Regions from separate parts of the Homo sapiens genome. Here all the other regions are reported to be linked to region 4. The links are microRNA targets in miRTarBase. Many come from high-throughput screens and were not tested one by one. Region 4 holds a microRNA gene; each other region holds the end of a gene's coding sequence.

Evidence for each region. The annotated mature microRNA hsa-miR-5100 reads UUCAGAUCCCAGCGGUGCCUCU and lies in region 4 at 1,363-1,384, shown strand. An mRNA with a match to its seed (bases 2 to 7 or 8) in the 3' UTR can be bound and repressed. Matches are read on the target gene's strand: a 7mer-m8 pairs with bases 2 to 8, a 7mer-A1 pairs with bases 2 to 7 and ends in A, and an 8mer does both.
Region 1: the mRNA of ZBTB49 is a reported target of hsa-miR-5100. Seed matches in the 3' UTR shown: 7mer-A1 at 3,552-3,558.
Region 2: miRTarBase lists NOTCH2 as a target of hsa-miR-5100. Seed matches in the 3' UTR shown: 7mer-m8 at 1,850-1,856.
Region 3: the mRNA of TMA16 is a reported target of hsa-miR-5100. Seed matches in the 3' UTR shown: 7mer-A1 at 3,235-3,241.

The regions. Positions count from the first base shown.
Region 1 is chr4:4,321,016-4,325,015 of GRCh38, reverse strand. It overlaps ZBTB49 (zinc finger and BTB domain containing 49), which reads right to left. Exons shown (of 8, transcript NM_145291.4): 8 at 3,233-4,000. The coding sequence ends at 3,700. Among named protein-coding and RNA genes, the nearest start is that of ZBTB49, 33 kb to the right of the region's middle.
Region 2 is chr1:119,912,084-119,916,083 of GRCh38, reverse strand. NOTCH2 (notch receptor 2) reads left to right here. Exons shown (of 34, transcript NM_024408.4): 34 at 1-4,000. The coding sequence ends at 778. Among named protein-coding and RNA genes, the nearest start is that of ADAM30, 18 kb to the right of the region's middle.
Region 3 is chr4:163,518,992-163,522,991 of GRCh38, reverse strand. It overlaps TMA16 (translation machinery associated 16 homolog), which reads right to left. Exons shown (of 7, transcript NM_018352.3): 7 at 2,453-3,658. The coding sequence ends at 3,478. Among named protein-coding and RNA genes, the nearest start is that of TMA16, 26 kb to the right of the region's middle.
Region 4 is chr10:42,996,268-43,000,418 of GRCh38, forward strand. It overlaps MIR5100 (microRNA 5100), which reads left to right and starts at 1,296; the gene lies at 1,296-1,414. RefSeq lists an enhancer at 1,163-1,663.

The sequences.
Region 1 (4,000 bases), not on the chromosome of region 4:
TGCTATTCCCTAAAGTTTTATTCTACAAGAGCAAATTATTGTCCTCATCAAGCAGATTTATTCAAAAATGTGACTTGGCCTAGGGGTCTTGTTTTCTGAGCCTTTGGCAAATCCAGCACCTGGCATACAGGAGGCACCTCCATACTTATACTGATGAAGTAAGATAACTCTTAAGGTTTTTAGTCTGAGTAAAATCCTGGAGGAACAGGATTGCCATTTAATAAGGTGGCCATGAATTGAGAAGACAAGGAGCTTGGTCTTGAAAGCTCTTAGTCTGGGGTGTCTGTGAAGACGCTGGTAGGCAGCTCAGGACAGGAATCCAGAGTTTTGGGAGGAGTCATGGGCAGACAGTATTTAAGGTCATGAGATGTGAGTGTAAGAGTTAAATAAAGAGGAAAGAAACATGAAAAGCCACTCAACAGTCAAAGATAGGTTATTTTGGAAAATAAACCTGAGAGGGGCTTCTGGCCGACTTAGGTCAGAGGCCCTCTCTCTTACAAAATAAGAGTATTTAAGGGTTCAGGGTGGGAGAGCTTATCACAGGCTCGGAATGTTTCTGTGTCTCTTTGTCTTGCTTATCTGGGAGGGAGAGTTTTTGCATCTGTTCCCACACATCTTCCTGCAGCTGCAGGCATACCACCCGAGTTTGCTTTTAGCTTCCCTATCTCAGCATGCCTAAAGGGAAAGAAATGTGCTTATTAGGGCCCACTGTTTTACTGGGGCCCATTGTATGAGGGTGAAGTTTGGTGGTTACGAAGAGACTTTCCCTCCTCCCTCTGTGCTCAAGCTGTCTTATCTGTGTTTCATTGTCTGCTCTTCCTGGCTGCATTTCCTTGAAACGCATGAGGTTAGAAAGGGAGCTGGAACTTTTGGAGTTGTTTGTCCAAGATGACAGTGCTCCTGCTCTGTCATTGAGGAGATGGCCTAGGGACAGAGCCAAGGCCGGAGAGGAGGTCCAGGGCCTGTGTTCTTAAAGTTGGGGCACCCCAACTTTAAGATGTGTGTTGGGGTAGGGGAAGGAGTCCAAGACAGAGCCACCCGTGCATGAAGGGGAATCCTAGCAGGAGTGGTCCTCTTGGTTGTTGTTTCAAGGAGAAAAAAGGAATGCACTTGCTGCCGACGTGTCATATCCTGCCTCAGAGTCATTAGGAAGGGGACTGAGAATTCTCACTCGGTTTAGCAATGGGGAGGTCGTGGGCCACCTGGGCAAAAAGTATTTCAGTGGAGTCTGATGAACAAGGTTCAGGAGAAAAAAATCAATCAATCTAGGAGGTCCAGTATTTTGACTAAAAAGTATTCCAAAGACATTCATTTGACTATTTGTTACTGAGCATTTAGGGTCAGGCACTGTTCTGGGCACTGAGGATAAAGCAGTGAACAAAAGAGACACAAAGAGTTTATATCCTGGCCAGGCTCGGTGGCTCATGCCCGTAATCCTAGCACTTTGGGAGGCCTAAGCGGGAGGATTACTTGAGCTCAGGAGTTTGAGACCAGCCTGGGCAACATAGTGAGACTCTGTATCTATTTAAAAAAAAAAAAAGAAGAGGTTACATCGTAATAGGGGAAGATTATATAGTAGGTCAGATGGTGATAATAAGACTTAGTGAGAAAAAGCAGAGGTGGGAAATCAAGGGGTTGGGGGCAGGTTGGTTTTAGATGGGAAAGTGCAGAGTCCACGGGCACAGATGTGGGGAGGTAGGGAGGTGTTATGGGAGCTTGAGGAATGTTCTTTCCTATTTGTTTCTTTTTTCTTTTCCTTTTTTTTTTTTTTTTTTTTTGAGACAGCCTTGCTCGGTTGCCCAGGCTGGAGTGCAGAGGTGCGATCTCACTGCAACCTCCGCTTCCCAGGTTCAAGCGATTCTCGTGCCTCAGCCTCCTGAGTAGCTGGGACTACAGGCATGTGGCAGTATACCTAATTTTTGTATTTTTAGTAGAGATGAGGTTTCACCATGTTGGCCAGGCTGGTCTCGAACTCCTGACCTCAAGTGACCCACCTGCCTCAGCCTCCCAACGTGTTGAGATTACAGGTGTGAGCCACCACGCCTGGCCCCTATTTGCTTCTAGGTTCTGAGAGAAATAGGAAGCAAGGCCATAAGGAGGAGGACAGGCGAGCTGCAGAGGTCTGAGAAGATGTGACACAAGTGCCTAGGGCAGCACGTCGCCTGGATCAAGGAGAGGGGATTGTAGGATACGGCGGGGGCTCAGGAGAGCTGTAGAAACTAGAGAATGGCTGTTTCTCACCAGCCTGGCTGGGCTCCCTGTGTGTAGTGCTGGAGGTTCACCAGGTGGAATGGATAAAGGGGTTGGTGGGTGAACCATGGCCAAGGAGGGTCCACAGGGACAGCTAAGGGGATGGATGCACTGTAGGTGCTGGGAGGCTGAAGAGCTACACGAGTTGGGATGAGGGAGGAGCCAGAGGAGGCCATGAGAGGAGAGGACATGGGGAGGAAGGAGGAAGATCTGCACTCACGTGCGGCCATTGTGTTCCAAGTTCACTCCATGTGTGCAATGGGGACAACAGATGCTCGCTGAGCCAGCCTGGCAGAAGCGTAGTGCAGCTGATGGATGGGAAAACACGAAATGCACCTGTAATGGACTTCAGAGCTGATGCCCTACTCTGCAACTGTGCTGTTTTTCTATGAAAATCCTCTCCTCCTCACTGGTCTCTCGTTGAGTATCTTGTACTTCTGAGTTAGAGCTGCTCACGAGTATTCGAGGGTGCTCTCCACACAGTCCTCCGTGTAGGGTGCTCTCCAGTCTTCCGTGCAGGCAGTGCTATAAGCAGATCACCTGTGACGTGCCACATCCCCAGTCTCACCTTGATATTCCAGCGACAGAGCCACGGGCACATCTCCTTCCTGCAGAGGCTGTCAAGCCCGCTGGGAAGGGGAAGTAAATATTTAGAACGCCCTGTCAAGGGCCAGGCGCCGGGCAGGTATTTTCAAGTGAGTGCTCAGATCAGACAAGCCTTGTGAAAATACTGGAAGATGTTCCTCTCATACTGCAAAAAAGAAACTCCAGAGAAGATCCTGAGAGGGTGAACAGCTCACCCATGACCTTGCCAGTAAGTGGCAGCCAGGAGTCAGGCAGTTCTGACCACTGAGAAACCCGCTGTACCAGGAGGGAGACTGACCAATGAGGTTCTTATCCTTGCAGAGTGAGTCCTCGCTGCTATTTATTTTTATACCCCTATAGTCTTTAGATTAATAAAAATGCTAGAGGAAACATATAATATATAGAAAAGTTTCATTTATTCGAATTAAATTATGGTATGAGTTTCATATACAAATAAATTCTGTGTAAATAATACAAAATGCTACAAATTTCAATCTTGTAAAAATGCAAAAATACTTGTAATACTATACATATATAATTCCTTTCACATGACCAACATGTACAGTAGTTGACACGATGCACACGCGCTTCCCCCCCACAGCTGAGGCTGCTGAGACAGCATCAAGCCTTCGCTTCTGTGACGTCAGCGCTCCCTCCCGCGGCTGCCTCACGGTGAGCCAGCAGGCCCTCCCCCTCACACCCCCAGCTCAAGATGCTTCAGATTATGAGCCATCATCAGGAGGGAAGCTACCTATTCTCTGGCTAGTTAGAAGGCACTGTCATGGGGAAACTGGGTCCTCCTACAGCCTTAACACCAGCCTGCTAAACTGAGAACACGCCTCTACCGTGGAGAAGCGCGGTACATCACTGGTCTAACTCGTTTTCATTCTGCAGCGTCTTCATCGCTAGCCCCCAGAGAGTCATGCTGGAGAAAAACTGACCCTCTGAGTTCCTATAAGTGGTGGAAGATGCTCGACTGCCCAGGGGGTCACCGCCGTGGTTGTCCAAAGCAGCCAGAGAGGAACGGATCATGGCCATGCCATCGGCCTGCAGTGGTTCGCCACCGGCTGGGGTGTCCACATCCGAGTAAGCATAGGCCTGAGGCTGTGTCTGCTGCATCTGGGGCTTGGCAAGTTTACCAGGATCCAAACTCAGCTTCTCCTGG
Region 2 (4,000 bases), not on the chromosome of region 4:
GGCCAGCACTGTGCTTCCCTCAGTGAGCCAGTTGCTATCCCACCACCACATTGTGTCTCCAGGCAGTGGCAGTGCTGGAAGCTTGAGTAGGCTCCATCCAGTCCCAGTCCCAGCAGATTGGATGAACCGCATGGAGGTGAATGAGACCCAGTACAATGAGATGTTTGGTATGGTCCTGGCTCCAGCTGAGGGCACCCATCCTGGCATAGCTCCCCAGAGCAGGCCACCTGAAGGGAAGCACATAACCACCCCTCGGGAGCCCTTGCCCCCCATTGTGACTTTCCAGCTCATCCCTAAAGGCAGTATTGCCCAACCAGCGGGGGCTCCCCAGCCTCAGTCCACCTGCCCTCCAGCTGTTGCGGGCCCCCTGCCCACCATGTACCAGATTCCAGAAATGGCCCGTTTGCCCAGTGTGGCTTTCCCCACTGCCATGATGCCCCAGCAGGACGGGCAGGTAGCTCAGACCATTCTCCCAGCCTATCATCCTTTCCCAGCCTCTGTGGGCAAGTACCCCACACCCCCTTCACAGCACAGTTATGCTTCCTCAAATGCTGCTGAGCGAACACCCAGTCACAGTGGTCACCTCCAGGGTGAGCATCCCTACCTGACACCATCCCCAGAGTCTCCTGACCAGTGGTCAAGTTCATCACCCCACTCTGCTTCTGACTGGTCAGATGTGACCACCAGCCCTACCCCTGGGGGTGCTGGAGGAGGTCAGCGGGGACCTGGGACACACATGTCTGAGCCACCACACAACAACATGCAGGTTTATGCGTGAGAGAGTCCACCTCCAGTGTAGAGACATAACTGACTTTTGTAAATGCTGCTGAGGAACAAATGAAGGTCATCCGGGAGAGAAATGAAGAAATCTCTGGAGCCAGCTTCTAGAGGTAGGAAAGAGAAGATGTTCTTATTCAGATAATGCAAGAGAAGCAATTCGTCAGTTTCACTGGGTATCTGCAAGGCTTATTGATTATTCTAATCTAATAAGACAAGTTTGTGGAAATGCAAGATGAATACAAGCCTTGGGTCCATGTTTACTCTCTTCTATTTGGAGAATAAGATGGATGCTTATTGAAGCCCAGACATTCTTGCAGCTTGGACTGCATTTTAAGCCCTGCAGGCTTCTGCCATATCCATGAGAAGATTCTACACTAGCGTCCTGTTGGGAATTATGCCCTGGAATTCTGCCTGAATTGACCTACGCATCTCCTCCTCCTTGGACATTCTTTTGTCTTCATTTGGTGCTTTTGGTTTTGCACCTCTCCGTGATTGTAGCCCTACCAGCATGTTATAGGGCAAGACCTTTGTGCTTTTGATCATTCTGGCCCATGAAAGCAACTTTGGTCTCCTTTCCCCTCCTGTCTTCCCGGTATCCCTTGGAGTCTCACAAGGTTTACTTTGGTATGGTTCTCAGCACAAACCTTTCAAGTATGTTGTTTCTTTGGAAAATGGACATACTGTATTGTGTTCTCCTGCATATATCATTCCTGGAGAGAGAAGGGGAGAAGAATACTTTTCTTCAACAAATTTTGGGGGCAGGAGATCCCTTCAAGAGGCTGCACCTTAATTTTTCTTGTCTGTGTGCAGGTCTTCATATAAACTTTACCAGGAAGAAGGGTGTGAGTTTGTTGTTTTTCTGTGTATGGGCCTGGTCAGTGTAAAGTTTTATCCTTGATAGTCTAGTTACTATGACCCTCCCCACTTTTTTAAAACCAGAAAAAGGTTTGGAATGTTGGAATGACCAAGAGACAAGTTAACTCGTGCAAGAGCCAGTTACCCACCCACAGGTCCCCCTACTTCCTGCCAAGCATTCCATTGACTGCCTGTATGGAACACATTTGTCCCAGATCTGAGCATTCTAGGCCTGTTTCACTCACTCACCCAGCATATGAAACTAGTCTTAACTGTTGAGCCTTTCCTTTCATATCCACAGAAGACACTGTCTCAAATGTTGTACCCTTGCCATTTAGGACTGAACTTTCCTTAGCCCAAGGGACCCAGTGACAGTTGTCTTCCGTTTGTCAGATGATCAGTCTCTACTGATTATCTTGCTGCTTAAAGGCCTGCTCACCAATCTTTCTTTCACACCGTGTGGTCCGTGTTACTGGTATACCCAGTATGTTCTCACTGAAGACATGGACTTTATATGTTCAAGTGCAGGAATTGGAAAGTTGGACTTGTTTTCTATGATCCAAAACAGCCCTATAAGAAGGTTGGAAAAGGAGGAACTATATAGCAGCCTTTGCTATTTTCTGCTACCATTTCTTTTCCTCTGAAGCGGCCATGACATTCCCTTTGGCAACTAACGTAGAAACTCAACAGAACATTTTCCTTTCCTAGAGTCACCTTTTAGATGATAATGGACAACTATAGACTTGCTCATTGTTCAGACTGATTGCCCCTCACCTGAATCCACTCTCTGTATTCATGCTCTTGGCAATTTCTTTGACTTTCTTTTAAGGGCAGAAGCATTTTAGTTAATTGTAGATAAAGAATAGTTTTCTTCCTCTTCTCCTTGGGCCAGTTAATAATTGGTCCATGGCTACACTGCAACTTCCGTCCAGTGCTGTGATGCCCATGACACCTGCAAAATAAGTTCTGCCTGGGCATTTTGTAGATATTAACAGGTGAATTCCCGACTCTTTTGGTTTGAATGACAGTTCTCATTCCTTCTATGGCTGCAAGTATGCATCAGTGCTTCCCACTTACCTGATTTGTCTGTCGGTGGCCCCATATGGAAACCCTGCGTGTCTGTTGGCATAATAGTTTACAAATGGTTTTTTCAGTCCTATCCAAATTTATTGAACCAACAAAAATAATTACTTCTGCCCTGAGATAAGCAGATTAAGTTTGTTCATTCTCTGCTTTATTCTCTCCATGTGGCAACATTCTGTCAGCCTCTTTCATAGTGTGCAAACATTTTATCATTCTAAATGGTGACTCTCTGCCCTTGGACCCATTTATTATTCACAGATGGGGAGAACCTATCTGCATGGACCTCTGTGGACCACAGCGTACCTGCCCCTTTCTGCCCTCCTGCTCCAGCCCCACTTCTGAAAGTATCAGCTACTGATCCAGCCACTGGATATTTTATATCCTCCCTTTTCCTTAAGCACAATGTCAGACCAAATTGCTTGTTTCTTTTTCTTGGACTACTTTAATTTGGATCCTTTGGGTTTGGAGAAAGGGAATGTGAAAGCTGTCATTACAGACAACAGGTTTCAGTGATGAGGAGGACAACACTGCCTTTCAAACTTTTTACTGATCTCTTAGATTTTAAGAACTCTTGAATTGTGTGGTATCTAATAAAAGGGAAGGTAAGATGGATAATCACTTTCTCATTTGGGTTCTGAATTGGAGACTCAGTTTTTATGAGACACATCTTTTATGCCATGTATAGATCCTCCCCTGCTATTTTTGGTTTATTTTTATTGTTATAAATGCTTTCTTTCTTTGACTCCTCTTCTGCCTGCCTTTGGGGATAGGTTTTTTTGTTTGTTTATTTGCTTCCTCTGTTTTGTTTTAAGCATCATTTTCTTATGTGAGGTGGGGAAGGGAAAGGTATGAGGGAAAGAGAGTCTGAGAATTAAAATATTTTAGTATAAGCAATTGGCTGTGATGCTCAAATCCATTGCATCCTCTTATTGAATTTGCCAATTTGTAATTTTTGCATAATAAAGAACCAAAGGTGTAATGTTTTGTTGAGAGGTGGTTTAGGGATTTTGGCCCTAACCAATACATTGAATGTATGATGACTATTTGGGAGGACACATTTATGTACCCAGAGGCCCCCACTAATAAGTGGTACTATGGTTACTTCCTTGTGTACATTTCTCTTAAAAGTGATATTATATCTGTTTGTATGAGAAACCCAGTAACCAATAAAATGACCGCATATTCCTGACTAAACGTAGTAAGGAAAATGCACACTTTGTTTTTACTTTTCCGTTTCATTCTAAAGGTAGTTAAGATGAAATTTATATGAAAGCATTTTTAT
Region 3 (4,000 bases), not on the chromosome of region 4:
TACTGCACATAGGACAGGCAAGACATGGCGACTTTGGTAAGGATGAAAAGTGAGACTGCCTGACACGGGCCAATTTGATTTTCATTTTGGAAGTGGAATCAGAAATACTCGCTAATTAAATTATATTGTGGGAAGGCATAGAAGAGAGAAAGTGAAAAATCAAGGATGATTTTACAGGCAGATTCCTGGCTTGAGAAATTGCGTGAAAAACTTAGAAAAATCAGGTTTCTGAGAAAATAAGGAGTGGGAAACAGAACATAAGTAGTATTTTCCTTTGAAAGGAAAAAAAAAGATATATCCATTAAATCAAAAGAAAGTGGTAATTTGTATTTTCTCAAAGATGTATAAAAAGCCAAGGGCTGAACATTGAGAAGGCTAGTATTCAAGTCAAGCTAGAAAAAAATATAAAAAAGTAGTAAAATAATTATCTCAAAGTTAGAAAATGAACTTAGTAGGGGAACATAATAAGATCACTAAGCAGTACTGAGAATCCACTTGAGATTTGCAAACATCAGTATGAAAATGGTCTGTTTGATATTCTCCAGCGATGTTGAGCTGCGTGAGAACAGGCATGAAGGAAACATAGCTGTTACTTGGTTTGGGTTCTGAAAGAGAAATAACTAGAGTCAGAGACAAGGAATTCAGGGTATATGCAAGGAAGCAACTATGAACTTGAAGCTAAGCTCAACAAGACAGATGATGCGTAATGAGAGTGAGGTCAAAGTGCAGAACTTCAGCAATGAAGAGGAGTGGTGACAGTGAATGGAGAGTGGAATACTCAAAATCAGGTCTACAGAGTGGAGGTGCTGATAAGGATCCAGGTGTGACCACTGAGAGGCCTCTGATGGGACAGAGAAAAAGACTGGAAAACTTAAAACTCATACTGTTGTTATATTTGCTAGCCACTATTTGTTATCCACAAGGAATCACTAAAATGATTGCTGCAGGGGAGAAGAAAACTAGGCCACGAGCTAAAGTATTCTATGAATGGGCAGAAGGTTCTTCTGGGAGGTAAGATAGTAAGGAAAGAAGGCAAGAATAGAACTTCAAAGACCTAAGGGAGAAAGTCTGAAGTGGCAGTAAAGCAAAAAGGACACCTACCCAATCTCCTGCCCCTGAAGCACACAGAAAGTAAGAATAGAAAAAAGCTTCTATTTGAGGTAAGCAAGGTCCTGAAGGGACACCTCTGTCAGTAATTACGGCAAGGAAGCAACTAGGATATTAGAGGAAAAGACCACAGATGTGAGTCAGCTGCTCTGAACTTAGAAATGTATCATTATGTCCATGGAAGTTCAGCTCATTGGTTTAGACAAGGGGTCAGCCAATTATGACAAGCAAGTCAATCCCCTGGCCTATTTTGTATGGCCGTTAACTAAGAATGGTTTTTATATTATTATTTTACTTATTTATTTTTTGAGACAGGGTCTCACTCTGTCACCCAGGTTGGAATGCAGTGGCACAATCTTAGCTCACTGCAGCCTCTGACTCCCGGGTTCAAGCAATTCTCCTGCCTCAGCCACCCCAGTAGCTGGGATTACAGGCATGTAATCACCTGGCAAATTTTTGTATTTTTAGTAGAGATGGGGTTTCACCATGTTGGCTAGGCTGGTCTCGAACTCCTGACCTCAAGTGATCCACCTGCCTCAGCCTCCCAAAGTGCTGGGATTAGAGGCGTGAGCCACCGCACCCAGCCGGTTTTTATATTTTTAGAGGGCGGCAAACAACACACATATGCACACGAATATGCAACAGAAACTACATTTGGCCTATAATGCCTAATATATTAATATTTACTTTCTGGCCTTTTATAAAGAAAAAGTTTGCCAGTCCCTAGTTTACAAAAATAAGTTACCTTTACTTTGTTCCATGGCCATGAACTATAGACGTTGTCTTACAAAAATATGCCACTGACTTAAAAGTGGTCTAGATGAAGGGAGCACAAGTTATCACCCCAGAAAGAACATGTTCAACAGGCAAGGAGTAAGAACATCTTAAGCATCACTCTAAAGACAAGTTATCTCTGAGGCTGCTTTGATCCAACTAGGAGTGACATGATTATTATGGTCCTAAATGTTATATGCATTCATTCAGCAAATACTTACCTAGTTTCCCGGCAGTGTAGCTTGTTAGTTGTAATCTTTGCTTTGACAACACATGGGAAACTAGAAACAAATGTTTAAGAAGGAGGACAATCTGTCACTTTTCACAAGTTATTCATCTAACAGTAGGGGCTTTTAAGTGTCAGTCCAGATAAAGCAGTTCTTATTCTCTTTAATGCAATTTATGACTCAGTTTTTACAACCATTTTAAGACTACGAGCCAAAAGGGAGAGAGAAGGAAACTTTCAGACATTAACTACTCATGGAATCCTAAAACCACACTTTTACACAGATTACTAACTAATCAACATGTTACATCACTAAAAAAAAAAAAAAATTAGGACTGTAAGAAATGAAATTGCAGAAATAAATTTTATTTTTAATTTTCAGAAGTAAAAAAAGTTATAATACTTTAACTGTTAACAAGGCTTAGTTGATATCCAGTTAACCTAATACTGCATTAATGTTTTTATTCTTTTCTTGAAAATACTCAAATACACCTACATTGTGCTCTTTTAAAAAAAAAATAAGGATACTTACATTTAAAAAGTTTTTTGAGGAAGAAAATTGTACAACATTCATGTTTTTCATGACACTGAATGATATATCAATTTATCTCTTAGAAGAAAAAGTAGCATAATTAAAATCACTGGTTCCCTAATCTTCAACTCTCTCTCCACAAATAAAACCTACCTCTTTTCACAATAAAAAAGCAAAAAATAATATACAATCAAAAGGAGCTAAACTGAAACTCTTTATCCCCTTTGTCAAAAGATAAATTAATTGTGGGAGATCAACATAACAATCATCACTGATTTTTTTTCTTTTACCATTTAGCTCTGGTTCAAAAGATAAATAATAATCTATAATCCAGAAATGTATACAAACTTCTTATCACATTTTCCCTTATTCTGTAAAAAAGGAAAATAGGTTTAATGTTTAAAAGAAGCATTAGTGTGATATTATTACCGAAAAACAATTTTGCTATTATCACAGCTCAAAAAGTACCCACAGGAATCTTTCAGGAAACAGGTTACTGTCCATTTCACAAAACGTGAAATTAGGTGATCATAAATACACAAGAAAAACAAAACATTTTTTGTCCTTAGTTATATTGCTCCCTCCCAGCCTGAAATTCAGATGAAGACTAAACAACTTCTGCAGATCACATCTATCTATTTTAGCAACTTAATGGAAATGAAAAGCAATCTTCATTTTAAAATAAGTATCATAACACCATTTTTGAAACGCAAATGAAACTCTCATCATATAAGAGAATGTCAGTATCAAATTTTTGTATCATGACAATTAGGTACCATAATCAATGAATATAATTTGAAGCTCTCAAATTATTTATTTTCAATTCAAGTGAAGACAATTAGGCCACTGCAGTCATTTCCTCATCTGAATCACTTGATTCATCGTTTAGTTCCAATTCCCCCAAATCTTGGTCTACAGTTATAATAGTTTTCCTCTTGCACGTCTTGGGAATTGCATCATTAGCGCAAATTTTTCTCATTTTAATGTTTGGTAATTTCTTCAGATCAAAGTCCCATTCCCTAGACAAAAGGAAAAAAAAAAAAGAGTGCAGAGTGTTGGTAAGAGTTAATGTGGAAAAACAGGAGATAGTAAATTTTCGAAACTCTGAGGATCCTACATATTCAAAACTTCAAAAGCGTTAAAGGAAAATATTAGGCACAAATTACTAGAAAGCTGTTCTATTCTTTCATCCTCTCTAACCTGAGTATCTCCTTCTCTCATGCTACCCAGATCAAGAATTGCAATCAAAAGTAGGAACTGTATCATACCTGACAAATCTCCAAAATACAGTCAGAAGAGGTTTTCCTTTTCACACACAGAAGTACATCCCAGTTAAGTTTCAGTAATCAACTGTTATTCTT
Region 4 (4,151 bases):
GTGGAAAGCCGTGGAGTGTAAATACGGATGGGATGAAAGTTGGTGTGGCCGGGCCAATCCCCAACTTAGACTTAAAGACACAGAGAATCCCTGGGAATGGAGACAGCGACTCCCAGATGATGAAGCAGCAGAGAGATCCTCCAAGGGTGAGTGACCTAGAGCACTTTACCAGCTTTGTAAAGGAAAAGGCATTTGCCTGGAGGCTGCAGGGCCCAGTCCAGCCTAGCTCCAGGACAGCTCCAACCCATCCTCCCATGGGTGGGGTGTCCCTGGTCCAGGCTAGGGACGGTCCAGGGTGGGTTGGCAGGACCTGCTGTGATCGTGAAGTTGGGAACTGCCTAAACCATCTTCTCAGAGCCTGTGTGTCCAGAGGGAAAACCCAAGCACGTGGAATATGGTTTACAAGCCGTGGTTGCTGAGGACAAGGTTGGTAATGAAGGCGCAGGGAAGCCTGGGAGGGCAGAAATGCACAAGGAGGGGTGGGGCTGGAGCCCGGCTGGTCCTGGTATCCTGGGCTTGGGGGGACCCTGCTCCTTTCCCTGGGAGCCCTGAGGCCTCAACTGGATGACAGGAGGTGGATATGCTGGTCCCTGAGGCACAGGCAGTATGAACCTCTGCATGGAGCTGGGTCTCAGCAGAAGCCCACCCAAGCCTGGAGTTTCCCAGCCAGGGATGCACCTTTTTCATCCCAGCAGCCTCTGTCCCTCAGTCCTGAGCCCTCAGGGGCCCTCAGGGCATGAAAGCAGGAATCCCAAATCCACCTTCCAGAATTACACGGGCTGTTCTTGGTGGTCAGGTGGCCTCTCGGGGCCAGGGTCCTTTTTAAGACTGGAACCTCTCCAAGCTCACCAGCACTCTCAGTGCACGCACGCACGCACACACACACACACACACACACCAGGATTTTAAACTCAGTCCAACAAATCTCAGCATGCACCAGAACTATTTCAGCATTTTAAGAGCCTGTATTGATTTTGGAAGGAGCCAGGCAGCGTGTGAAGGCCATTCTGTCTGGGATCCTATGCTGAGTCTGGGGTCTCTGTATGAGGGATTATCCATGTGTGGGGAGCCTTCCCCCTTCAGAGCTTTCCAGCTTCCCTCTGATCACATGTCCTGAGCACACTATCCCAAACCTAACCCCAGCTGGGCTCTAGCAAGAGACGAGGTCCTGTCTTGCTGGGAAAGGGTCATCCTTCCCACCCGGAGGCCCCTGCTCTGCCCCAGTTTCCTGCCACAAAGCCCAGACAGTCCTGGGAACCTGGGCTGGTGAGTCCCTCCATCACCTTCAGAAACAGCCATGAGGAGCTGGCAGTGGGATGGCCTGGGGGTAGGAGCGTGGCTTCTGGAGCTAGACCACATGGGTTCAGATCCCAGCGGTGCCTCTAACTGGCCACAGGACCTTGGGCAGTCAGCTGACCCTGCCCAGTCCCAGCATCCTCATCTGGTCTTAGCTAACAGGGACACACCTGAGGAGGTGGTCTTCATGTCACTTCCACTGGGACCAGTTTTCAGAGCAGCTGCAGGGGTCATCAGTTAAGGCAGTACAGCCCACTTACAGAGGAGGCGGGTGGCTTGGGGTGTGAAGGACGTGCCCAGGTGACATGCTGCTGAGTGGCCCCAACCCCATCCAGGCACCAAGCCAGAGCCTGTCCCCAGGGACCCCAGGGCACATCAGCAGAAGCTGGAGGATGTGGGTCTCCTGGGCCTGGAATCTCAGAGCCCACATTGGTTAATTTCACACGTCCGCTTGACTGGCACACAGGGGGCCTGGATGTTTGGCCAGACATTATGCTGGGTGTGTGTCAGGGGGGCTCTGGGTGAGATGAACACTTGAATCCATGGACTGCAAAGCAGACAGCCTCCCAGTGTGGGTAGACCCATCCAACCTGTCGCAGACCTAAGCTGAACACAAAGGCCAAGTAGGAGATAATTCATTCTGCCTGGCTGCCTTAAGCTGGGAGCTTGGTCTTTTCCAGGCTTCAGACCTGAACCGAAGTACAGGCTCTTCATGCATGTCAAGCCCCTGGCCTTCAGACTGGGACAAACTCCATCAGCTCTCCTGGGGCTCCAGCTGGCCAGCAGCAGATCTGGGGACTTCTCAGACTCCACTATCTCATGAAGCAATTCCTTGCCATCCATCTCCTTTAATAAACACACACGCATCCTATCACTTCTGTTTCTCGGGAAAACCTTAACTAATGCAGAGCCCGAGAGTGGGGCATGGCTCAGGGCTGCTGCACCCAGGAAGCATCTGTGCTCCCTGTGCTTCCAGGCAGGGACCCTCATGGAGGGGTGGGATGGTCGTACTTCCTCAGCCAGCACTTAGGGGCCGTGAGGTCCATAGCCATGAGCTGAGGGAGTGACCCCACAGTTTATGTCACTGTGGAGAAAGGCTCCCTGAGCTGTGGATCCAGCCAGTGGGTTGTAAACCTGACTAAGACACTCAAGCTGCTGCGGCCGGGGGCATGCCACAAACCCCCAGTGAGCCTCAGTTTCCCCCTGTAGAACAGGGGTGTGAGAGCAGTCTCCTCAGGGTGTAAAGAGCCCAGCAAATGCCGGGCACAGCTCATACCAGATAAGCATTAGCTGGTGGCAGAAAAGCTGGAAGACAGACTGCTGACCTCCACAAAAGGATCAGATTTGTGCCAGTCCTGGCCATGGACAACAGGTCCCAGGCTTGACCTGTAGGTGAAGAGCCCAGAGCCCAGGACCACATGCCAAGTGGGAGGCTCCTGGCCCAGAACACCACACCTGCCTAGCAGATGTGTCTCCTGGAAGTGGGAAAGCAGGACTCTCCAGGGAGCCCTGGGGATACAGAGGATGCAGCCCGCGAGGCCCTGGCCTTGAAGCCTTAGTGTCTCTGCAGGCCCCACCTGTGATTGGCCCCTCCAGGGTCACCCAGGAGGGTAAGATGCCCAGGGCCTGCATCTGTGCTGTGGGACACAGCCTGGCTTCTGAGGCCCATGGAAACCTTTCTCGGGAGCTTCTCAGGACCCCAGCCAGGACATCTGTGCCTGTCCGTGACAGCTGCCCTAGAACTGGCCACAGGCCTATGGCTGCCTTGCACTGTCAGCCCCCAACGCCCGTCGTGTCATCAGCATGTCTCAGATGCCTTCAAGGGCTGCCCACTCCATGATCCTTGTCCACAGCCCCAGCATGTCCCCTAGCGTCAGAAGTGTCCCCGGATCCTGCAAGCCAACCACATAGGACGTCCACCTCTGAGCCCCTCTGTTCTCCTACCCTCCTGCTGATCACAGCCCTGCTGCCTGGCCTCATGGTCCAGTGCATCTTTCTCCCTGGAGCTGCCACAGTGCACCACCTGCCTGGCTATGCATTGGTGACCCCTAGGAGCTCCAGGGGGACCTTCACACAGGCCCAGGACAACTGGGGAGTCCTGCCTGCCCTCCTTTGAGTCCAGAAGCCCTGAGCCAGGCTCTCTTCAGAGGGGTGGAGGTCAGCAGGCACCAAGGCCTGCAGTCCCCAATTCTCCTCTCCCAGCTGATCTCTCTTGCCACACCCTGTGCTGGCCCATGCCCGTGAGTCCGCCTGGCCACCCAGACGGGAGCTGATGTCTCCAGGAGACATACGGGACTTGCCATAGCCCAGGCCAGGGCAGTCCCTGGGAGACACAGGGCCTGGGAGGCTGCTTCACCTGCGGGGCTCCTGGGCAGGTGCAGTGCTCCCTGGAGTCCATCCTGGGACCTGTGGCCCAGCCCACCTCAGACTGGCCACAGGCCCTCTCCTGAGAACCCCTGCCTAGGCTCTGTAGCCTTAGAGCCTCACCTAGAAGCTCCCCCAGGCCCCTCCACTGGGCAGTGCTCAGCGCCCACCCCTCTCTAGTCTAGATTTTAGGGGGAGCCTGGGTCCAGGCTGCCCAGCCCAGCACATCCCCAATACATACCCAAGCCAGCCATGATTGCACCATGGGGCCAGGGGCAGTGGGGGTGGTTTGGGGTTGGTGGAGGCATCAGGGCCTGGGTCCCACAGCCAGCCTGGGCCTCCCAGGCCATTGAGCCCTCATCCTTCCAGTGCTCTGCGAGCAGGCGTCCCTTTGTGTGAGGACACCTGTGGTGCACCCCTTCAGTCAGGCATCCCTGCAACCCACTTGGGGGTGCAGACATGAAGGAGCCCATGGGAGGCAGCATGATGGC